Linked DNA regions of Homo sapiens: all the other regions are linked to region 6. Evidence: fine-mapped expression QTL. A gene starts in region 6. Each other region holds a variant in brackets. All regions are shown on one strand. Distances are between the middles of the regions. Region 1 has its middle 19 kb from the start of SLC46A2. Region 2 overlaps SNX30 (sorting nexin family member 30). Region 3 holds the start of SLC46A2 (solute carrier family 46 member 2). Region 4 overlaps SNX30 (sorting nexin family member 30). Region 5 overlaps SNX30 (sorting nexin family member 30). Region 6 holds the start of SNX30 (sorting nexin family member 30).

Region 1 (4,088 bases), 160 kb before region 6:
GGTCTTGAGGACTGTCTCCCTGACATCACAGGTGTCTTTCACAAGCAGGTGTCCAACAAGTCCTCATTAAATGAGGGAACGAATGAAAGAATTTGTACATACCACAGCAGATGAAGTCATGCCAGTTACCTAAGGGTAGTGTTTTCTCAAATATTGCATTAAAAAGTTTTGTGTGCACATGATTTGCATGACAAAATTAGACTTAGCAATTCTGTGGCCTCTTTCCTAAATACATTTAGACTTTTCTGGTCACATTAAGTCACATCTCAAACATATTTCAAATACCTGACTGGTTCAAACATCAAGCATATTTCTGTGTGAAGAATGGGAATAAGAGCAATGTCATAAAGTCCTTTACAGAGCATAAGCTGGGTTCAAAACTGGCCTGGAAGGAAGGTGTCATTGCCCAGGTTTTCTTCTGGAAATACTCCAATGTGGACATCAAGAGGGCGGCTGGTCACAAGACAGATACACCCTCCATCCATAGTTGTCAAAAGCGTCACACAGTCAGAAATGACCACTCCAAGAAACCTCAAGGACACAGCATTCCAAACGAGTTCTCTCCTGAGTATGAGATCTTGTTATTTTGATGCAAGAGGATAAAGCCTATAAGATATGACTTTGATGCCTCCCTGTCACCCCAGGAGATGCAAAGAAAGGTCTTCTCTGTCTCTTTTGCACCTCTGAGCTCAGGGACAGATAATATCCCCATTAACAGGCTATTTTCCATAGACACTTCAGGCATGCCATTTACTCCCACCCACAGTGTTTTCGAAGAGGAATAGCTAGGAAGCAGCTGCTATAAAATCATTAGCAGAGAACAGAGCGTTAGTATGAACATAAGGCCCAGCAGCACTTGAAAGGAACTTCATATTCCTGATTTGTATCAGCTTCTTGATAGTCTGTATCTCGTTTTTCTCCCAGGAGACAATTCTGACCTCAGAAATCACCAAAGAAATATTGGCTACATTATCCAGACCTGGGATCACTGCCCTTTCAACCTTGCAGCCCTCACCAGGACAATATAGTTTTCATCAGATATGCTCAAGTGTTACAAACTTTTGCTTTGAATACTCATATTCTCTTTTCAAGCCCAGAAATTTGAAGTCAATCTCCATTTTCAAACTTCCCAGGCAGATCAATTCTGCACTGGTATAATCCAGTCATCAGGTGGGTTCTCTCCCAAGTTCTAGAGAACACTGGTTTAAACTCCTATCCTACAGTTTATGGAAATTCAAAGTTTTCTCAATATTTCCTACAGGTTTCCAGTCCAGGGAGATTCTCATATTCTCAGCTGTGGGCTGGCAGTATGATATTACCAGAAGTTGAGAATTAGGTACATTGGCCCTGAAGGGGGCACATGAGTGAATACCACAATTTCCACTGCAGCTCACCTCTCATATTTCTCTGATATCCCTTTGGGAACGACTTTCCCGTAATTCTGGTTGGCTTGTTTGCTGGGAAACTTACAAGAGAAAGATTAGTAGGATGAACTATAGCCTCTACTGCCGCAGCTATCCTGACACCATAAATGATATTCATCATCCCCTCCACCATTTACAATCCTGTCTTCCCCTCATTTTTGGCTAGTACCTCTGCTGGTCTAGGCGGCTTACCTGGTGAGGTGACCCAAACCATTCATCCCTAAGTGTCTGAGCCTTGATTTACTATGCCTTTCTCAGACTGTGGCTGCTCCAATTCTCCAACTACCGTTACCACTGGGT[G/T]TGGGAACACCAAGATGTGCTTCATGGTGGGGTCCAAACATATTCTTCCTGTCCCCCTTGAGTAGCAGTGACCTTAATTGCCCCTGCATTCCCTTTCTTACTGCTGTTCTTTTGACACATGGAACTGGAAGCGCCCCAGCGACAGCCATAGCTTAAATTGCAGTGGGATTCTTACTGTCTCCCCTGGTGGAGGCAGCCCCTTTTAGTGCTAAAGCTGCAGGAATGGAAAGCACAAATTTCCCAAGATCACTGAGAGAGATGAGAAGTGGGGCCAGGCCTACTTCCATCCCCCAGTTTCCAGGCTCATGTAGTCTACCTTTTGGAGACAGAAAACAGCACCATGCAATGGTTATTGATTTAGGGTCTCCTGGGGGATGGTACCCCATCCTTATAGGGTGTTAATTCTAAATTGAGATCTTGACTGGTTTCATAAAGGCCATTCTGCCACTCTAATAGGGTGGCTTCTGGGTGACAAAGTTTGAGATAGAAGAAGTGGGTCCCATGGCCAGGTGTCCACTATATACTTTTTTGCTGTGAAGTAGAATGCTTAGCTCTGATATTTTGCTGTTATCCAACACGCCGTTCGGTCTCAGATCATGGTACTGGCTGAGGCCCCACAACAGGAAAGACAACCCGATACACAGAATATAAGTTGAGCCTGGTCAGGATGGTATCTACTCCTTCTATTGTGCAAGGGATCCAATGCAATCAAATAGCCACCAAATGGCAGCTTAGTTTCCTAGGGGATGAGGCTATATCAGGGTTTCAGTACTGGTCTCTGGGGCTGATAGGCTGGACTTTGAGCAGAAGCAACAGCCAGATCAGCTGTCAGGTCCATGCAGAGTCTCCATCCCTACCACTGTGGCTACTCTATAAATGCACTCATTATTCCAACACCCAGGTATCTAATAACAGAAGCCAAATGATGTCAACTGGCTGAGTCACTTGGTCTGTATTTGTTGGATAATGCCTCTTCTATAACAGATACTCCAGTGGGCTAATGCACATGTGAAACAAAGATCTTCACACCTCCCATAAGTTTGCCCACATGCCTCCTCCTCAGAGCTCCTTAACCCTGATCTTTCAATCTATCTCCTTCCAAACCCCCCAGCAGACCATTTGCTACTACTCGTGAAACCATGTATATTCATACCTTGGGGAACTTACATGACCAGACATACCTGCTAGAGATTTCCCCATTGGTAGGATTTCTCACTGCTAGCTTTTAGTACCACACCTATGTCCGTCTGTTTTTGTGTTGATATAAAGAAATATCTAAGACTGGGTAATTTATAAAGAAAAGAGGTTTAATTGGCTCACAGTACAGAAAGCATGGTGCTGGCATCTGCTTCTGGTGACGCCTCAGGAAGCTTACAATCATGGTGGAAGGTCAAGGGGGAGCCAGCATATCACATGGCAAGAAGGAGCAAGAGAGAAAGACGGCAGAGGTCCCAAACTCTTTCAAACAACCAGACATCATGTGGATTAACTGGGCAAAATATCACTTATCACCAAGGGGATAGTGCCAAACCTTACTCATGAGGGATCCACTCCCATAATCCAATCAGCTCCCACCAGGCCCTACCTCCAATACTGTGAATCACATTTCAATATGAGATTTGCAAGAGACAAACATCCAAAGCATATCAATACCTAAGTAAGGGTTGTGATGCAGCTACTGTCCTCTGGTTTGTACTGAGATATCGAGTTGACCCATTTGTGAACCAAGTTTCAACCTTTTCTTCCCCTCCATCAGCTGTCATAAGAGGTTCCCCATGTGGCTGGTGCTGAAGGAGAAGCACTGGACAACATGAGATCTGGACCACCTGCTTTTGTGGCTTGCTTGTTCCTTCTGACCCTACATGTGCCCTATCCCACTGGTGTACCACTTCCATCTTATAGATTGCTGCTGGGCCCACCCAAACTTATGATGTGGTAGTCTGAAAGAAAACTTCTCATAATGGATAGTTCTGGTTGCATGATCATCTGATGTCTCTTGCTCACTTGCTTCATATTCACCAGGACCCAACAAGGATGGTGGAGAAACTGCTTTCTGAATAGTGTACAGTCATCCCTCCATATAGGTGCAGGATTGGTTCCCAGAATCCCACAGATATCAGAATCTGTGAATGCTCAAGCACCTGACATAAAATGATGTAGTATTTGTGTATAATCCTCCAGTATGCTTTAAATCATCTCCAGATTACTTAATACCTAATACAATGTAAATGCTACGTGAATAGTTGTTGTGCTGCATTGTTTTTTATTTGTATTATTTTTGTGGTTATATGGTTATTTTTCCTGGATATTTTTATTCAATGGGTGGTTGATTGAATCCATGGATGTGGAACCCATGGATACAGA
Region 2 (4,088 bases), 120 kb before region 6:
TCCAAGGTCCTGTCCTTGGTTCTCTTCCCATGCAATCTAGTCCACCCCCATGGACTCCAGAACTTCATTTCCAACAGCCAAGTCAACATCTCCACCTGGATTTCCTCAAACCTAAAGCGAAACCAAGTTCTCCTTCTCACACCCCACCACCTAAGCTCATTCCATCTTTTTTGATTTTTAATTTTTGTAGAGACGGGGTCTACGTTGCTCAGGCTGGTCTTTAACTCTTGGGCTCAAGTGATCTCCTGCTGTGGCCTCCCAAAGTGCTGGGATTACAGGAATGAGCCACCACGCCCAGCCTCCATATTCTGTCTTTCTCTCCTAATTTTAGCTAATGGCATCGCCTCCAAATCCCAGGCTGGCAATCTTCCAGTCATCTCCGGTCCATTCTCCTCCCCCCAAGAATCTCTTAAATCGGCTATTTTCACCTCCCTTTATCACTTCTTGCCATGGCTTTTGGAATTTATTCCTCCCCATTCTTCAGGCCTTCAATCTGACACCGTCCTTCAGTATTTTATTTCCATCACCTTGTTAAAAAGAAAACAGGGCCAGGCACAGTGGCTTATGCCTGTAATCCCAGCACTTTGGGAGGCCAAGGCAAGCGAATTGCTTGAGCTCAGGAGTTCAATACCAGCCTGGGCAACATGGCAAAACCCCGTCTCTGCGAAAAATAAAAAAATTAGCCGGGCATGGTGGCACGTACCTGTAGCACCAGCTACTCGGGAGACTGAGGCGGGGGGACTGCTTGGGCCTGGAAGGCAGAGGTTGCAGTGAGCTGAGATCATGCCACTGCACTTCAGCCTGGGTGACAAAGCAAAAGAAAAAAAAAAGAATATCCTGTTAAACAAAAAAACTGGCAAAGCATACATGAAGGATTGTTATCCTTAATATTTAAATTGGCCATATCCTTAAGGATAATATCCTAATAGCCTTAATATTTAAATTAGGAAGTCTTTAGAAAGGGGCTATCACAGTGAGAAGCTGCCTGACATTTAAGTGCTTTGCATACCATATTGCTAGTCCTATCGACAACCCCATGTGGAAGTCTTGTTTTCATCTCAAAGATCGTAATACTAAATATTCAGCCAAGTGTGACTTGCCTAAAGCCACATAGCTAGTAAGTGGAAAAGCTGAGATTTGATCCATGATCCACGTCTTATTCAGCTTGCTGCCTTATTTTGTATGACTGCAGTCTTAAAGTAAGTCAAGTTGAGCACTATTTTAAATATACTCAAGTTCAATGCATTACCATCATCAGGTCAACTTAACTGGCCCTGATGCAGAATATAATGTTGTGCTTTGCTATGGGATAACACAGGAAATCTTTCATGTAGTAAATACCTCAGCTGGCTGTCGGCCTGCCTGCCAGTCATGATGGCTACTACACTAGGAAGTTTCTTCATCTCCCCAGATTGGTGCAGATGTGGAAGATGTAGAAGAGGGTAAATTGAGGGTAAACTGGGCCTATAAAGAAGTGAAGAAGAATAAAAATAGTTCAATTATATATATTTTTTCCTGTCGCTCTGTATGTCTTGATTCTTACAGGCAAACTGAAAACTTGTAAAGAGAAAATAAGAAAACAGAAAAATAGGCACACATGTTTTTCTGCCTTACAAAAAGGTACAAATGAGGACATGACTCCAGATAAAGAAAGCATCTTTTATGGGTTTATTGGTCCTTTAAGTTAATTGAAGTAAAGAAACTTTAAATTTACAAGCTAATATTTATCAAGCAATACAAATTCTTTTGTTTACCTCAAAATGTAATACTAATTCCATAGTAAACAACAATTTTTTTATACACAGATATATGAAAAAAGTGGACAAAAACCTCGTGCCAGCATCAAAAAGTCAACAAAAAAACGATTCTTTTTCCATTTTACAATCTCTGGTTTCCATAACAAACAAAAAAAAGGGTGACATTCTTTTTAAAGTTTGGTAGCTTCATGAAACAAAGACTTCCATCTGTAAATAAATCACTTTCTTATCAACACACTCTCTCAAGCACTTTTTTTATCACAGCTTTTGTTTTGGCATAATGGCAGCATGGAGAGAAGGTAACATTTACACGGTGGACTACATCAATACCTCAGAAGGTTTTTATTTTAAAATTTTAAACGTAAAGAATGACTTTTAAAAATAAGATGACAGTCCATAATGTGGACATGTCCAAAGCCGAAGTTTTTAATCTCTTCTTTAACAGTTAAAATACAAGTTAGAAAGTTTGCTGGCAGTTTATTTCACAGGAATATATCAGATGGACATCATCTCTCAATGCACTCCCAACTCACAGCAATGAAGGGAACAGGCACACAGAAATACAAC[A/G]GACAGGGAATCCACCAGACTTCATCCAAACTTCAGGGGTGTCTAGGCCAAAAGCGCCTTTAAGAGATGCTGGTTTGTTATTGGATAAAGGCCGAGATGACAGAGCCACTGCTTCATCACACTGACTCACATTTTGGTTTGCAATCCACTTTCCTCTCTCCTCATTTCCACATGGAGGAAAAAAAGTGATTTTCCTTTCCTCCTCCCAGTAACATTTCTGACTGAAGTGTTGGTCTAAGACTGCGAACAATCAATCCTGTCCAACAGGGGTGTTGCTGGGTGTCACCTACTAGGACCAGCCTACAGAGAGCCCAGAACCACCTGGTGTGGGAGTGCTGCTGCTGACAGAGAATATGCAATGCTCCTCGCCACTGGTGTTAACACTAAAGGCTCTGCTAAAATGGACTAAATTACATGAGTCAACATCATGTTTTCTGTTTTTGGCATTTCAACCCATAGAGAATTTCTATCTGAAACAAGCTGCTCTGAGGCTTGAAGATACCCCCCAGTATCTTCAAAAGCTGTTCTGCAGAATCAGGAGTAACATTTAATACTGTTGTCATCTATAGCATTCTTTGTTTCTACGTGATTTGTCAATGCCGATACTATATCCTCTAAAATCAAAAGTATGCCAAAAGGCACTAATCTTTCACACTTAAAAAAAAAAAAAAGGTTTTGTGGTCCCTGTGTTTCCTTACATTATCAAAAATATCATTTGGCAAAAGCAGTCCTTAGTTTTCCCCTCCCCAAAGCCAACCCTAGTGATGGCCCTCACTTTCTTGCTTGTTTCTTTAGGGGGCCTGAGGACTGACTATGTTAGATCTCTATATTATTGAAGCTGAACAACTGATTACATTTCTAAAACTCTTTCTACCCAGGACTTTTAAAACACTAGGTGAAGAAGAATAAGGCATATTAGTAGGTACGGACAAATTCTCAAAAAAGTAGAGTTGGGCTTTGAAAAGTCTGTGGCATTTTTTTAAATTCTGGATTTGTTGATTTTCAAGTGCTAAATACACAGAATGTTTATATAGGAGACAAATATCTTATTGGTTTGTTATTTTTTTAAAGCACTTATTTACAGACTCTCTGTAGTAGTAAAAACTACCTGGAAAACATATTTTTCTGCCACACAGAAAGGGTTAGACAGTCATACTCAGGATGTATCTCAAATTATGATGAAGAAAGAACAGTCTAATCCCCTGCAACAAAGCCCCCACCCCAACCTTTCTAACACAGACAACTTACACACACTCTGATACATGTAACTGTGAGACCAGGCATCTCTCAAACAAAAAGCTGACAATCTACAGGGTGGGTTGGTGAAAAAATGGATTCCTGGTTTATTCACTGAATTGAAAAGATCACAAGGCAGAACAAGGCCGAAGAGAACAATTCCAACACACCCAACGCAAGCTGTGAGGCTGGCCCAGGAGAGAACATTTTCCTCAAATTTACTGATACAGGCCTCCTGCCATCTGACAGACAAGACACAAGAAATGAGAGGGTGTGTCCATCTGCTGCCATCTTGAAGGCTTTTGGAAGTGAGACAGGAAACCCAAGCTCCCAACCTAAGTTTGTAAATGAGGGTGGCCAAAGCAGGGTTGCCCCAGCCCTATAATTGGATCACCCAGTTTCCACAGGTCCTTAAAGTAGGTGTCTGGGAAGGTGGAGTCCAGACTGGTATGCCCTGTCCTGACCACAGGCAGCCCATCTTCTGAGAAGAATCACCCTCAGTGCAGCCAGCAACCCATCTGGCCAGAC
Region 3 (4,088 bases), 140 kb before region 6:
GTACTTGCACTTTAATGAAGCCAACCTTGCACTGGAGACTAGATTCTATCTTGAAGTGGCAAGGTCAGGGCTCTACTTGCTGGTAGCCTGGGCTGCAGAGGATGACCAGGTGCTAGCTCACCTGGGGCCTGCATTCAGAGATGGAGCAAGAAGTGGGGACATGATGAGAATATAATCCAACCCACAGTAGCCTAAACTGGGAGAGACACTGACTACCCTGAGTCTTGTTCATTTCCAGGCCAGAGAACTCAGAAGCCTGGGGGTTCCTAGGGCTGACTAGCATCCTAATAACCCAGCTCCTACTAGATCTGTTCTAGATCTGATGTGACTCTCTCAGAGACCCTTCAAATGTCCCTGGTTTCCCAAGACAATGGGAAGAACTGAAATACCACAGACCCTCCCAGAGATGACAAGGGCTGCCCCCTACAGTCTAGAGCCCTAGAATGCACAGACTCCTTGATCAAGTGGCCAGAGTGGTCCATCTGGGTCAGGTTGTTCTCATGGCCATATTTGATTGTGGAATACCACCTGGCCCCATAACCTACTCATTCACTGGAGTCTCCACCCCTCATAGGATCAAGGTGTTTGGACTGTTTGCTGTAGCCTCTGGAAAAATTAAGAATGGAGTGGGAGAGCCAGGCTTGGGTTGGGTGAAACATGTATCTCCCAAGGTGACCCTAGGTGAGGGGGAGGAAGAAGGAAATGGGCTGCTGGGCCAGATCCATGGGGCACATCTTGAAGGGCAAGACTAGGTGTGTCTTTCTCTTTGCAGAAGGCAGAGTCGTCTGGGCCTAGACACGAGGAGGCTGGGCCATGCTGGAGGTTGAGGGTGGCAGGGGAGGAGATTATAGCCCACCTAAACACTACCAAAAGAGCACATAGATACACTAAATCATTTGGAATCCAGTCCCTACTCCCTACATGAGTATATTATCCATGTGGCATTTTAAGCTCTCCCTGCATACCTGCGTCTCCCTTTCATGTCTTTGGGTTCCTGATCATCCACGCTGCCAGAGCTATAGTGGATTGTGGGTAGAGGGACAGGAAGGCTGTGTGCTTTGAGTCTCCATCCCTGGGGCTGACCATGGAACAGGTCATGCTCTGTGGTACATTTTGGCCCCTGCACCATCCATCACCCTGGTTTTCTTTGCAGAAGTATGTACCTAAACAAGAAGCGAGGCCACCTGGGAAGTGGAGGTCTCAGCCCAGCCCAGGGGAGTGAGCCCACAGACAGAAGAAGAGTGACTACTAACAAGCAGAAAGGGACCTGGGCACTTGATTCAGATGAGGACCCTGGTGACTCTGCCCCTTCCAGTGGGCTCAAGCCCCTGCCCAAGAGTCCAGTTTTATCATCTAGGGGGACATCTAGGGCTGGCAGGATCTTGCCGTCTCTCCCTTGGCCCTGGGGTTTGGGGCAGGAGCCTTCTAGACAAGGCCCAGGCACTAGGCCCACCAATGCAGGTGTACCAAACAGGACTCTTCTCTAAGAGGCCTTTGGCTTGGAGAAGAGCCTGGACCTGGCGGCTCCCAAGTTTTTACTTCTCTCAAAGTGCTACCCAGCTGCCTATAGCACATGGGCCCCTGTTGCATTAAATCTATAAATAAAACTTCACACCCCAATACTTATCCTAGGCAGAATCCTAGGCGTCCCACCCCTCGCGCAAACCTGCCTTCCTGGGATGGGAGAATTTGGAAACGCTCCCTGAGCCAGTCCTGGGGAGCTTCCTTCCAGCCCCTGCCCCGGTGGTGGGGGGTCCGCAGAGATCCGCGGGAGGTCCGGGCACGCACGCCTGGCTGTGGGGAAATTCGGCCCCGTCAGGCGGCCGCGCTCACAGGAGCAGCGTGACCCGTCGGCCCCGGGGGTGCTGGCGCCAGGAGCCAGCACTCGCGGTGCGCTCCCCCGCGCCTGGCTTCCCTGGACTGTCGCCAGTCCTACTCTGCCTGAGGTGGCGAGGGCAGGGTGGAGCGCGGCCTTTTCTGGCCTGAGGAGGAGTCACTCGGGAGGTCACTCGGCTGCTGGGCGGGCTGCTGTCACAGGCGCTGCGTGCCCTGGCTCTGCTCGCCACTGGCCGGCGCGCTCCCGGCGCACGGAGCACACTCGCGCTCCCGGCGCACGGAGCACACTCGCGCTCCGGGACTGAAACCTGAGCAGCCGTAGCAGCCGAATTTGGGAGCATATCCTTGTCACTGCAGCCAGAAAGCCCTTCGATCCCCATCAGAGAGGTCACATGAGCCCCGAGGTCACCTGCCCGCGGAGGGGCCACCTGCCTCGCTTCCACCCGAGGACCTGGGTTGAGCCCGTGGTGGC[C/A]TCGTCCCAGGTGGCTGCCTCCCTCTACGATGCGGGGCTACTCCTCGTGGTGAAGGCGTCCTACGGAACCGGAGGCTCCTCCAACCACAGTGCCAGCCCATCGCCCCGGGGGGCTCTAGAGGACCAACAGCAGAGAGCCATCTCCAATTTCTACATTATCTACAACCTTGTGGTGGGCCTGTCCCCCCTGCTGTCCGCCTACGGGCTGGGATGGCTCAGCGACCGCTACCACCGAAAGATCTCCATCTGCATGTCGCTGCTGGGCTTCCTGCTCTCCCGCCTCGGGCTGCTGCTCAAGGTGCTGCTGGACTGGCCAGTGGAGGTGCTGTACGGGGCGGCGGCGCTGAACGGGCTATTCGGCGGCTTCTCCGCCTTCTGGTCCGGGGTCATGGCGCTGGGATCGCTGGGCTCCTCCGAGGGCCGCCGCTCTGTGCGCCTCATCCTCATTGACCTGATGCTGGGCTTGGCGGGGTTCTGCGGGAGCATGGCTTCCGGGCATCTCTTCAAGCAGATGGCTGGGCACTCTGGGCAGGGCCTGATACTGACGGCCTGCAGCGTGAGCTGTGCCTCGTTTGCCCTGCTCTACAGCCTTTTGGTGCTAAAGGTCCCTGAGTCGGTGGCCAAACCCAGCCAGGAGCTCCCCGCCGTGGATACCGTGTCTGGCACGGTTGGCACATACCGCACTCTGGATCCTGATCAGTTGGACCAACAGTATGCAGTGGGGCACCCTCCATCTCCTGGAAAAGCAAAACCCCATAAAACCACCATTGCCTTGCTCTTTGTGGGTGCTATCATATATGACCTGGCGGTGGTGGGCACAGTGGACGTGATCCCTCTTTTTGTGCTGAGGGAGCCTCTCGGTTGGAACCAAGTGCAGGTGGGCTATGGTATGGCTGCAGGGTACACCATCTTCATCACCAGCTTCCTGGGTGTCCTGGTCTTCTCCCGCTGCTTTCGGGACACCACCATGATCATGATTGGGATGGTCTCCTTTGGGTCAGGAGCCCTCCTCTTGGCTTTTGTGAAAGAGACATACATGTTCTATATTGGTGAGTCTGTCATTCTTGAGGAGGCAGGACATTGCTAGCCCTCTGCATCATGGGGCTGACACCAGGGATGCCATGGTCTGGGTGTCCTAGCTCAGCACCAGGGATTGAACCTGCTACCTAGGAGGCACAAGGGACACAAGATTATATGCCCCTGAGTTTATCTGTAATGTATTGTTAATTAATTATCTATATTGAGAATGAAATGTTACCAGAGTGGTGTTCATGGTTCTGGGCAGTCAAGGAGGTGTGGTCAGTGGTACCTGGAGTCAGTAGGGGAGGCTTCAGGATGGCCTTCAACAGAGGAGATGGAATTGGGTTTCTTCCCCCACACCCCCTTGCCATTTTAAAGGGATGGAATTTCAAAGGCCGAGCGCAGAGGCTCTCGCCTGTAATCCCAGCACTTTGGGCGGGAGGTGGGAGGATCACTTGAGGCCAGGAGTTCAAGACCAGCCTGGCCAATATAGCAAAACCTCATCTCTACCAAAAGCATAAAAATTAGCCAGGTGTGGTGGTGCACACCTGTAGTCCTAGCTACTCAGGAAGCTGAGGCACAAGAATCACTTGAACCCAAGAGGCAGCGGTTGTAGTGAGCCGAGATTGTGCCACTGCACTCTAGCCTGGGTGATAGAGCAAGACTCTGTCTCAAAAAAAAAAAAACAAACAAACAAAAAAAAAAAAACGTGGAGGAGTGGAATTTCAAGTAATTCTACTGAAAAGATCCCTTAATTAAA
Region 4 (4,088 bases), 110 kb before region 6:
ATACAATAAAATTAGCTGGGCATGGTGGTGTGCTCCTGTAGTCTCAACTACTTAGGAGGCTGAGGCAGGAGAATTGCTTGATCCAGGGAGGTGGAGGTTGCAGTGAGCCGAGATCACGCCACTGCACTCCAGCCTGGCGACAGAGCGAGACTCCATCTCAAAAAAATAAAAATAAAGAAGATAAACAGTCAACAAGGACATGAAAAGATGCTCAACATCATAATCACTAGTGAAATGCTAATCAAAGCCACAGTGAGATAGCACCTCACACTCATCAGGATGGCTACTATTAAAAAAAATAACAAAAACAGAAAATAGGCCAGGTGCAGCGGCTCACACCTGTAATCCCAGCACTTCAGGAGGCCAAGGCAAGTGGATCACCTGAGGTCAGGAGTTCGAGACCAGCCTGGCTGGTCTCCGGGAGGCGGAGATTGCAGTGAGCCAAGATCACGCCACTGCACTCTAGCCTGGGCGACAGAGAAAGACTCTGTCTCAAAAAAATAGATAAGCGTTGGTAAGAACATAGGGAAACTAGAACCCTTGTACATTGTTGGTGGATTGTAAAACAGTATAGCTGCTATGGAAAACAGTATGGAGATTCCTCAAAAATTTTAAAATAGAACTACTATATGATCCTGCTGGATTCCACTTCTGAGTACATATCCAAAGAAATTGAAAGCAGGGTCTCAGAGATACTTGTATACACATGTTTATAGCAGCATTATTCACAGTAGCCCAAAGATGAAAGCAACACAGATGTCCACTGATGAATGGATAAACAAAATGTGGTATGTATATGTATGTGTATGTATGTATGTGTGTGTATGTCCCATATATATGGGATATTATTCAGCCTCAAAAAGGAAGGGAATTCTAACACATTACAACATGGATAAACCAAGGACATTACACTGAGTGAAATAAGCCAGTCACAGGATAAATATTATATTATTCTAGATACGAGGTATCTAGAATGGTCAAAGTCATAGAGACAGAAAGTAGAACAGGGGTTTCTAGAGGCCGGCAGGAGGGGGAATGGAGAGTTGTTTAATGGGTCAGAGTTTCAGTTCTGCAAGATGAAAAGAGTTCCAGATATCGATTGCACAACAATGTAAATGTGCTTAACACGACTAAGCTGTACACTTTTAAATGGTTAAGATGGCAAATTTTATATTCTGTATATTTTACCACAGTATAATCTTGTTTAAATATATGGAGGGAAAGGTGGGGCTGAGGGAGGCAGGGCCCAAGGTTTGAACTCACAGAGAAGCCAGCATGTGTAGGGTTAATAAAGGACTCAGCAAAAGTCACTCGGGAAGGCAGAAAGGCGGGCACAGAAAGAGGAGGTGGTGAATCAGAGAGAACAGAGCCAGAGAAGCCCAGGGGTGGTAGGAGTTAGAAGAGGATGGAAGAATTAAAAAGAGGAACTGGGGTGAGCTGTCTGTGACCAGCTTGTGAAGTTCCCCAACTTGAAGAAGGGGAGCGCTGGCAACTCATGCTCAGGCATGTATTCTTCCACCTTTGATTTTTTGGATAGTGTCTTTGTAACTATCAATTCACTGACCAGTAACACTAAGCATTCTTTTTACTTTTATTTTTTATTTATTTTTGAGACAGGTCTTGCTCTGTTTCCCAGGCTGGAGTGCAGTGGCACAATCACAGCTCACTGTAGCCTCAATCTCCCAAGTTCAAGCGATCCTCCTGCCTCAGCCTCCCGAGTAGCTGTAACTACAGATGCACACCATCACACCCAGCTAATATTTTTATCTGGAGTAGAGGCGAGGTCTTGCTACCTTGCCCAGGCTGGTCTCGAACTCCTGAGCTCAGGCGATCTTCCTGTCTTGGCCTCCCAGAGTGCTGAGATAATAACAGGTGTGGGCCACCACCCTCAGCATTTCCTCTTATCTCAATGTTTTAATTTTCGTGACTGAGGTATTGTTACGGTTGTGCTACCATGCGTCTGAAGGATGTTGACATGGCACAGCACTGCTAATGGTTGGGTGTTGCTTATCATGACACCAAGGAAAAATATCACCAGATAAGACCTCAAAAGATAAAAATTTATACAGAGGTGACAAAATTGCATTTTTCACCTTGGTTCCCAATCTCTCATGAGAATTTCCATTACAGAATATAGGTTGTTAGTGCAATGACAGAAGAGTCACGTGGATGGGACTGTGCATTTCTGTGTGCTGGGGAACGGGACAGTAACTTAAATTCACTCAACATTCATTTAAAAACGCATTACTCAGTGAGCCGAGATTGAGCCACTGCACTCCAGCCTGGCAACAGAGCAATAAATAAATAGATAGATGGATGGATGGATGGTTGGATGGATGGATGGATGGATGGATG[C/G]ATGCATGCATGCGTTACTGAGCTCCTTCCATGTGCCACGCATTTCCAGGCCCTAGAACAGAAATCTCAACTTAAGTCTCCTTCTTGGAGCTGGGTTGGAGATGTCACATTATCTGCTCTCATGATGATAGTAGGTTAGGAAAATCCCCAAAGACTACACAAGACAGATATAATCCCAAAGTGTGGAGGAAAGGGGAGCTCGTGGCTGCTGTAGGACAGGCTCCAGGACCAGTGACAGCCACACGCTGCTGAGTGAGCAGGGGACAGGGCTCCCTAACTGGCAATGTGTGAGTGGCAGAGAGATTGGTCCTCTGCCCTCTGGGAAGCCAGAGCCCCCAGGCTGGTCACCTCCAGCTTCCAGCAACTGCGTTTTCAGTGTCTATTTGAGCTGTGAGGTGAAAACAGGTAAGAAAACACTGATACAGGGTCAAGTCTGAAAAGAGGCCATGGAATTGGGCAAATAGAAAGTCAGTGGCTCTCTGAATGAATGCTTTTTTAATTATAGATAAAAACAAACTTCAGAGAATGGTCAGTGGGGAGTGAGGGAGGGAGAGGTGAGGGCATGAGATGAGGAGCAGAGAGGCTGACAGCAAGAGATCCTCGAGCTTGCCTGCGCAATGACACGAGAGTGAAGCCCCAGGGAAGGCCACACGCACTCTCCGTGCCTGCCTCGGGAAAGGCAGGGCGCCCCCTCAGGGAGCACAGCTGCTGGGGCCCGCGCCCTGGGGAAAGGCACCAGTTTTGGAGCCAGATGCACTTGGACTCCATACCGGCTCCACCATTTGTTGACTTTGGCACTTAAGTTCCACGCTTCCCCTGACCCCGGGCCCCCATCTGTCACATGGAAACCACCGCACTGGCAGAGGGTGGCTGCGGTGGGACTTAAGTCAGCTGAGGGGATGGGGGAGTTCTGCCTGCTCTGGCTGGAGGCACCTGGTCTTCTGCCCCATGGTGAGGGTCCTCACTTGCCAGAAGGGTCTGGAAACAACAGACACGAGGCCCCACTCTCCGGTCTGCATTAGCTCTGTATGTAGAAGTCTCCCTGCTGGCAGTTTACAATTGGGATTCTCACTTCACTACCCACCACGTCTTTCCCATTCTAGAACATTCACTATCCCGGTGGTTCTAAGAGCTGTCCAAGGTCTACAGCCTTCAAGAGGTTTGTCCAGAGAGCCCAATTTCCACTTTCCCTCTGCTCTTCTCTCAACCAGAGGGGGAACAGCTCTGTGCACCTTTCCATCCCAGTCACCTCCACACGACACACCTCCACACTTCCCACACCAATGCCCCACTCCCCTCCACACCCATGCTCCCCCAAAACACCACACCCACCCCCACACACTACATACCCCACACACACCACACGCCCTCCCTACACGCCACACGCCCTCCCTACATGCCACGTGCCCTCCCCATACACACACCACACACCCACCCCCCACACACACCACAGGCCAGCCCCCCAACACCGACACCCCAGGTCCCCTCCACACGGCCCATCTCTCCTCATCTGCACTCCGACACCACCCATTTAAACTTCTTCATCTGGCACCCACCCAGGATGAGGCTACCCGTGGGTCAGGGCCTAAAACAGCACCCTGCTTTTTTTATTTACTTTTTGAAGATAACTAGGAATTCTGTGAAGCCTTCTCCCTGGCATCCCTTCTTTGTTCTTTTTGGAGCTAGTTATACCAAGTGTATTAGCACTGAAAAGAGTCCAACGCAGAAGACAG
Region 5 (4,088 bases), 110 kb before region 6:
TACATACATACATATATATATATATATATATATATATATATATATATATGGCGTGACAGGATCAAAAAACTCTGTTACCCAGGTTGGAGTACAGTAGTGCACAATCATGACTCACTGTAGCCTTGAACTCCTGGCTCAAGCCATCCTCCTGCCACAGCCTCCCGAGTAGCTGGAACTATAGGCACACGCCACCACACCTGGCTCATTTTGTATCTTTTGTAACGACAGTCCCACTACATTGCCTAGGCTGGTCTTGAGCTGGGCTCAAGTGATCCTCCCACCTCGGACTCTTCAAGTGCTGGGATTACGGGCGTGAGCCACTGCACCTGGCCTCGCACTGGTTTGCTGGACATACGAATCAAGCAAACCTTGATTGAGGGGACTGGGCTGTAGCCTGATAAGAGTCATCTCTATGTGTGTGTGGTGTGTGTATGGTGTGTGTGGGGGTTGTGTGTGAGGGTTGTGTGAGGTATGTGGGTGTGGTGTGTGGGTGTCGTGTGTGGGGGGGTTGTGTGTGGGGTGTGTATGTGGGGTGTATGTGTAGGGGGTGTGTGGTGTGCATGTAGTATGGGGGGTGTGTGGTGTATGTGTGGTGTGTGTGTAGTGTGGGGGGGTGTGGTGTGTGTGTAGTGTGTGTGTGGGGTGTGGTGGTGGTAGTGGGGTGTGTGGGTGTGTGTGTGTGTGCACGCGCATGTGCGTGCGCTGCTTAACCTGGTCAAGGGGATCCATGAGTAAAAGTTTTTAATAGAATTGCTTTCCTTTGTAATCCTACATCCCTTTATTTTACGTATTTAAAATCAATATTTTGAAGTCTATTTAAAAAACAAATGCACAGTATTTTGGTGAGGGGTCTATAGGCTTCACCAGATGACCAAAGGGGTTCACTGCACAACCAAACTGAAGGGACCCTGTGTACAGAACCCCAACACAGAGTAAAGTAACCCCAAAGCCTCCATTCGGTGGCAGCATCACTGTGCTGAAGGTCTGACTGGCTCTGGGAAGCAACCAGTGCCAGGCCCAGAAAGCATGGAAGACGAATGGGCTGCTTCCCCAGCAGCATGTGCAAGGGAAACCCCTGTGAGCACCCCCTCTGCTGCCAAACCCAGCACTGCAGCCACATGGTTGGGCAAGGGCATGAAGCGGGAGCCAAGACTAAGCAGCTAAAATAAGGGAAGGAGATGAGACTAGCAGGATTCCCAGCTTGTGGATTTCTGGTAGGCCCATGTGAAAGGCTCTGGCCATTAGAAACCAGTCTTGTTGGGCACACTCATTACCTTCTCATAATACTGGATGTTCTTGTCAGCCATCCCCATGAGTAGCTGCCGGAAGTCCTGCCTCTTGTTGTTCTGCCACCTCTCCATGTCAGCTTTCAGGTCAGCATTGAAACACTCCATCCGATCCTGACATTTCTCGACGTCCGCCGGTACCTGGAAAAGGGAGGCACACATGGGTGCCCTGCACACAAAACTGGCATCTCTTGCCTTGAGCTCCTCTGAGCACACATTTGTCAAAGGCCAAAGCCCTACATTAAAATGCTATCAACACGCTCCCTCCTCTGGAGGCATTTATTTGAAAGCAAAACCTTGGGTTTTCAGGTCTAAGGAGGAGCTCTGAAAAGGGGCTCTCCTAACCCAGATCTTCAAACCCATCCAAACACAACAGAGACTCGTGGGGGAAACACCCCCATTTACACACAGGAAGAAGAAACATTGCAATTCAGACTCATATGTCTTTGGTTCCTTTTAGGATTTACTCATCCACACTTGAAAGTGTGTGCAGACTTTGCAAATATACAGCATTTGTATTGCCCTGCTATTCTCCTGTGTCCCATATTGGAACTAGAGAAGAGGTAGGTTCTCCCAGATCACATGAACTATTCCATTGCTGTGACATTTGATGATGCCTTTCCTCATTAATCAGAGAATTGCAATAAGACAACTACTGGCCAGCTGCCTCCTCTGAACCCCACATCATAAATAAACTGGAGGCTTGTTTATGCTTTTCCCAATAGCAGATACTTTTAAATGGAGAGTTAGAGAAGTCTGAGAAAACAGGAGGAAAGTTACTTATGCATGTCAAAAAAATTTGAAATTCAAAGAAGAAATATACAGCAGGCTATTTCAAGTTTTTCTTAAAGAGGTTTAGAAGACTTTCTCAAAAGGGAACTATGTCACTTGAAGTTTCACAACTTTCACTTTGCTTTGGTGAATTTCACCATCCTGTGCAGCTGGAGTTTGGGCTTTGTGGCTGCAGC[G/A]CTTCCCAAAGCTGGCTTCTCTCTCCTAACTCAAGCACTTCACTGAGCCCTGATGGCGGCCAGGGAGCCGACAGGCCCAAAGCCAGGTCAAACCCCCGACCTGCCAAATGTATCCCAACCACAAGTGAGGCCTTTTATGTTTGGTGTGCTGGGGCCCATGAACCAAACTGTCTCCAAGCCATGGCTCACCCCTGGGAGTCCACTTCCACCAATCGAGGAGGTTTATACCCAAGCCTCGTGGACAAGGAGCTGACCCAGAATGATGCCAATGAGAAAGACAGGCCTGAGGGAGCTGGACACCTTCAGGGTACTCAGCCATCTTCTCCACAGACCACGTGGAGATGGTTGTAGAACACAGGAGTCAGGGAAGAGACATGGCCAAGGCAAGTGAATTTGAATGTGCCTGACACGGGAACTAGACATGGGTGAAACCAGGATGAGCTGGAGAGAGAGATAACTAGACACTCTGGAAATTTAAAAGCAAGGAATTTTTCTGTTAAGATGGGGAAAGAGGCCTTCTTCAAAGCACATAAGCTTCTGGAAGAGGGAAAAAAAAAATACTGGGCTGAGTGCAGTGGTTCATGCCTCCCAGCACTTTGGGAGGCCAAGGCAGAAGATCACTGGAGGTCAGGAATTTGAGACCAGCCTGGGCAACATAGTAAGACCCCCATCTCTACAATAAGTAGGATGTGGTGGCGCTATGTTGTCCAGGCTGGTCTCGAACTCCTGGCCTCCAGTGATCCTCCCACCTCGGTCCCCCAAAGCACTGGAATTACAGGTTTGAGCCACCATACCAGGTCAGAGACTGACTTTTTCTTCTGATGCCATGATTTAAGTCTCTTTTGCCTCCTCCCAAGACCACCCATTACTATTGGTTACCTCAGGAAAAACTGAAATAAAAACCAGAGTATCCCAGTCTTGCCTCTCCAGAGTCACTCCAGGAATCAGCCTCAATGGAAAGATGCCCAGCGAGCCAGTGTCTCTGGCTGGCCTCACCTCCCCACAGGCACAGGCCAGTTCCCTTACCCGTCTCCTGGCCACTGCTCACACTTGCATTGGGGTGAGGGTGCCTATGAGCAACTTCCTGTTTGCTTAACGAAACTTCTGCTGTGAGGAGAAAATGGAAAGCCCTGGAAAGAGAACCTCACCAGGACACGTGGAGAGGAGGGCAGCCAGGGTCTCTGAATCAGGACTGTTCACAGAGGAAAGATTCCCAGGTTTAAAGATTCCCAGGTGTGTTCTGGAGATGGGAACTCTGACTGACCCAGAAAAATCAGGGTCTAAACCACGGCTGTGGGTTTTAGGACTGCCTGAGCCTCGGTCTGGGAAATATTTGGCTTCTCAGTTTCACAACACATTCTGTGCTTGGCACTGAGGAATACAAAAGTGCTTGGGTCTCAACAGACAAATCTTGTCTCCCGTAACCTACAGTCTAGTTGGGAAGAAACAGGAACATGCCTAGACACTGAGGCAAGATATCGTAAGTGTTGTCGCTTCCCCTGCAGCCCCCGTGATAAGCACGCTGAGGAGGATGGAGGGGGCGGCCAACCTGGGAAGATCGGGCCTCATGGAGGAAACAGCACTGAGGCGGCTCTTTAAAGATGACAGATGTGAGATGTTTGACCACTTGGAAGGCACTCCAGAGTGGCGGTACACACAAGGGACAGAGGAGAGAAGACACCAGGACCCACCGCAGGAATTGTGCACAGGCCACAGGGCCCACAGCGGCACGGAGAGGGAACTGCAGCTCGCAAGACTGGCAGAGGGTGGCAGGGGATGAGGAACCTGAGGCTCGTCCCAAAGTCCTGCTTTCCTGAGGCCCAGTTAACTCATG
Region 6 (4,088 bases):
TTGCCACATCAAACAGCCCTATGGAGAGTAACTAAGACCTGCCAACAGCCATGTGAGTGAGCTTAGAAGTGGATCCTCCCCTAATCCAGCCTTCAGATGACTGCAGCCCAAGCCAACAACTTGACTGCAACCTCAAGAAAGGCCTAATTCAGAACCACTCAGATTGTCCCACAGACACTATTTCCAGGTGATAAGTTTTGGGGTAATTTGCTACACAGCAATAGATAATTAATTCAGTGTCCCACACAGAACTGAGAAGGAAATGAGGTTTAACCCCCAGTTCCTACACTATTTTAAGACCAATTTTTGTCGATAAGAAAGCAAATTTATTCAGTTATTCAACATTTTTTGGAGACAGGGTCTCACTCTCTTGCCCAGGCTGGAGTACAGCGGTGCAATCATAGCTCACTGCAGCCTTGAACTCCCAGGCTCAAGCAATCCTCCCGCCTCAGCCTCCTGAGTAGCCTGGATTACAGGTGCATGCCACCATGCTGTGTGCGTATGTGGAAACGGGGTCTCGATATGTTGCCCAGGCTGGTCTCAAACTTTTGGTTCAGAGCAATCATCCCACTTCAGCCTCCCAAAGTGCTGGTATTACAGGTGTGAGCCACTGCACCTGGCCTCCATTAGCTTTTTTAATTTTCCTGTTCCTAATGCTTTGGAACTTCACTCCCTGCTTTCACAAACCCTCTGCAGAAGGTACATCAAGTCGCACTCTCTAGTGATTTTAAGTGCTCAGTGACCTTCTGACTGCAAGGAGGGCAGGTTATATTTTCTCATACTCCTTTTTCACTGTACCACATGGTGTCCCCTCTAACGGGAGAAGAAAGTTAGGTCCCCTGCTCCCATTAATATTGGGACAAGGGGGAATTCATTTAGTATTTTACTAGGGAGAGAAAATCTTGATCACAAGACCTGAGAACAATTCTAATTTCTGCAGTTAGTGACTAAGTGACGGCAGGAGCGGGGATACAATCACTGCTCAAGTCTCCTTCACAGCTGAAATGGCCATGGGGGTAGGGAGGAGGTCGTCCCTTACCCCTGCCTGGACTCTGCTGTCTCTCCAAGCAGCAGGAGGGTTGTGCTGCTCTAAGAAAATCTGGAGCCTCCCTCCGTACAAAGAAGGTCAAAGGGCGAGCTTTCTTTCCATCAACCACAAAACCAGCCTCTGCCAAACCTAAACAGAGTGGTAGGCCGTCGGAGGTGAATGGAGCCCCAGACAGAAAACCACAACGAGGCTCTCCTCCCGCCGCCGGCTGGGGTCTGAGTCAGGTGACTCCTCAGGACAAACAGCAAACCTAAACAAAGATCACTCCCCACATGACTGACTAGGGGGAAGAAGACTCTCGCTGTAAGCCCAGGGCTGCCCGGTCCCAGCACGGAAAGCCAGGAACTCCTGCTTTCTGTGCAGTCTCGGAAACTGGAGGAGCTACAAGTTATGCAGCAGCTCAGCCTGCAGGGATGCACCTGGAGGAACTCGGAACCCCATCCGAGGACACAGGCGCCCTGCCCTGAACACACGCCTCCCGCTCCAACACGCAGGCTGGACCCCTCCCCACCAGCTGTCACCGGTGCTTGCGACCAGTCACAGGCAGCGAAGCCTGTCCCTCTGCGGCTGCGACCCCGCGGAGGCGGCAGAGGAGACGCTTCGCCGAGGGCTCCGGGGCCAGGACACGCCCGTCCCCCGGGAAGGGGCGGCAGGGTGGGCGCGGCCCCAGGCCCACGAAGGCTCCGGATCCATCATCCCCCCCACGGGGAGCGAAATAAGCCTCCCACTCCCCGGCCCCAGGCGCCCCACCTTGTCACCGAAGCTGCGGGCCATCAGCAGGTCCGGGCTGGGCGTGCTGTCACCACCCACGGCCTCCTCGCTGCTGGAGCCGGCCAGCGGGTGCGGCATGTCGCGCAGGGAGTGGGGCCCCGTGGACGGCAGGGCCTTGGGGGGCCCGCCCGCCATGGCGCGCACCGCTCGGGACGCGCCGCCGCCGCTTCCTCCTGCTGCCCGCCGCGGCGAGCTCCCCGAGCACCCCGGGCCGAGCCCCGCTCGGCCGCCGCTTAACCCGAGGCCTTGCACCGGCCGTGCTGGGGGCCGCCGCCACCCGCCGGCTGGTCTCTGCCGGCGCTCAGACGCTCCGCTCCGCGCCGCGCGCCCCCGCTCCGCGCCCGAGCCCGCCGCGGGTCCGCTGGCAGCACGGCCGCGGCGCCCAGCCCACACAGCCACACCGCCCACCCGCTCCGGCCCCGCCCCCGAGGCGCCGCGGCCGCCCGGGAGGGGGCGGGGAGGGCGGGGAAGGGGCACGTGGGGAAGGAAGGACGGAGGGAGGGAGGGAGGAGGCGCGGCCCCGCCCCCGCCCGGCAGGAAGTGCGCCCTGGGCCTCTGCGGCTGTCCTCCCAGTGTCCAACGTTGCCTCGCGGAGGCCGCCGTGCGGAGCAAATGTCTAACGGAAATCAGAGGTGGAAAAGAGGTTGGAGGAGCCTGTTCCGTTCCACCCGCGTTTACTGATGCGCCCACCAGCAGCCACGCTTGGGGCTGGGGGCTTTGAGGACACGCACGTGAGTCAGGGTCTTCTGGCCTCTAAGGCACGCGCAGGAAGAACCCTAGATAGACGGAATTACGACCCATATCGGAAGAATAGCATAAAGGGCGACAAGGCTCAAATGAGCTAGAGGACATCGGGTGGGGAACCTGGAAGGGACTTCAAAGAGGCGGTGTGGGGAGTCTTCAGGCTCACTCTGAGGTCCCCATTGTGGCTTGCTTCTGCAGCTGAGCTGGATTTGTGTAAAGTCAAACCTCAGAACAGCGAGCATGAGTAGAGAGTCTCAAATGATATGCGACTCTTCAACTCACACTTTGGCCGAAGAGACTTTTGAAAGAACCATGAGGTTCAAGTTATTCTTCATGCATTTGTGCTTCCTTTCCAGGCCTTGGGCTGAGCTGATTCTCAGCTTTATTTGCTGGCGTGGTGCAAATAGTCAAGGTGTTACTTCCAGCCCTTTGGGGTGTAGGTTCACCTCCTTTTTCCACCTTACCTGTCCCTAGATCTTCTGTTTCCAAGGCCAAGTCTTTAAAGGGTTTTCAGTCCCTCTAGCAAAGTAATGGGTAGGGAGGCTCATCGTGAGGGACCACATTTTCCCTACCCATTCCAAACTCAAAGGTTTGCCTAGCCTTACCTGCTAAAAGGTGATGACAGATGTTGACTCTGGGATTCACTAAGGCCTCTACCACAGTTTTCTCTAGAAACAAATAGAAGAGAATGCAGAGGGTTGAAATCTACCCAAAATATCAGTCAGAGACTCTGAGCTTCAAAGACCTTCCCCTATTTCCCCCAATGTAATTTATATAGGGTTGGACCCTTAGTCCTCAAGCTATCATCTTTATCTCCTCCACATAAGCCTGCCTTGGCTGGGAAAAGTAGCATTCAAAGGGCACTGGGAACAATTTTAAATGCTGCATCTAAGGAATGCCAAGTTCTGGTCCTCTTGGAGTTGGATTAAAATTGTTAACACTTTCACATTCAAGGGCTGCTTACAACTACTACAGACCCTATTATCTGTTCTTCTGAATTAGCATGAAAATGAATAGCACAATATAACTAGAAATGAGTATTTCTAGAAATGAGTATATACATCTATAGATGTATAACATCGGTTTTTCTTATTGAATGGTGCTACTTATTTTAACAACCAGGCTGCCTTAAATATAATGGACATCCGTATGGATTAAGACTCTATACAAGCTTTCTCTTTAGTACACCAGGGGAAAGTGAAAAAAGAACCACATTTGAATTCGGCTTTGTCACTACAAGTGGGTGACCATGAGCAAGTTACTAACCTCAGTGAACCTGTTCCTAACCTAAAAAGGAGGAGAATGGAGAGCAGGTAATAATACCTTATGAGATGGTTGTGAGAGTTATATAGCATTCTTTATGTCATAGTCCTAGCAAAGTGCTGGCATAAAATAGGTGCTCCCTAAATGTTAATTACCTACCTTCCTTTCCCTTTCTGTCAGATTTTCTCTACTATTCTTATGAAATAATAAAGAGTTTTTGTAATTAAATATGCTTTACTATTCTGAGTAGGGTCTGGTTGAA

Evidence for each region. PIP is the estimated chance that this variant, and not a neighbour inherited with it, causes the effect.
Region 1: its variant is fine-mapped to the expression of SNX30 in whole blood (TOPMed, PIP above 0.99).
Region 2: its variant is fine-mapped to the expression of SNX30 in whole blood (INTERVAL, PIP above 0.99). The same link has a PIP of 0.9 or more in subcutaneous fat.
Region 3: its variant is fine-mapped to the expression of SNX30 in whole blood (INTERVAL, PIP 0.99).
Region 4: its variant is fine-mapped to the expression of SNX30 in whole blood (INTERVAL, PIP 0.97).
Region 5: its variant is fine-mapped to the expression of SNX30 in whole blood (TOPMed, PIP above 0.99). The same link has a PIP of 0.9 or more in blood mononuclear cells.

Annotation. Positions count from the first base shown.
Region 1 is chr9:112,907,993-112,912,080 of GRCh38, reverse strand. No RefSeq gene overlaps it. Among named protein-coding and RNA genes, the nearest start is that of SLC46A2, 19 kb to the right of the region's middle. The variant G/T (reference allele first, on the strand shown) is at 1,725.
Region 2 is chr9:112,872,545-112,876,632 of GRCh38, reverse strand. SNX30 (sorting nexin family member 30) reads right to left here. Exons shown (of 9, transcript NM_001012994.2): 9 at 1,646-4,088. Among named protein-coding and RNA genes, the nearest start is that of SLC46A2, 16 kb to the left of the region's middle. The variant A/G (reference allele first, on the strand shown) is at 2,325.
Region 3 is chr9:112,888,822-112,892,909 of GRCh38, reverse strand. It overlaps SLC46A2 (solute carrier family 46 member 2), which reads left to right and starts at 2,034. Exons shown (of 4, transcript NM_033051.4): 1 at 2,034-3,357. The coding sequence starts at 2,229. The variant C/A (reference allele first, on the strand shown) is at 2,309.
Region 4 is chr9:112,856,036-112,860,123 of GRCh38, reverse strand. The region is part of intron 7 of SNX30 (sorting nexin family member 30); the gene reads right to left. Among named protein-coding and RNA genes, the nearest start is that of SLC46A2, 33 kb to the left of the region's middle. The variant C/G (reference allele first, on the strand shown) is at 2,356.
Region 5 is chr9:112,861,586-112,865,673 of GRCh38, reverse strand. It overlaps SNX30 (sorting nexin family member 30), which reads right to left. Exons shown (of 9, transcript NM_001012994.2): 8 at 1,275-1,427. Among named protein-coding and RNA genes, the nearest start is that of SLC46A2, 27 kb to the left of the region's middle. The variant G/A (reference allele first, on the strand shown) is at 2,255.
Region 6 is chr9:112,748,868-112,752,955 of GRCh38, reverse strand. It overlaps SNX30 (sorting nexin family member 30), which reads right to left and starts at 2,196. Exons shown (of 9, transcript NM_001012994.2): 1 at 1,799-2,196. The coding sequence starts at 1,954. SNX30-DT (SNX30 divergent transcript) reads left to right here and starts at 2,391. Exons shown (of 1, transcript NR_186503.1): 1 at 2,391-4,072. RefSeq lists enhancers at 508-1,427, 1,428-2,349 and a silencer at 1,619-2,438.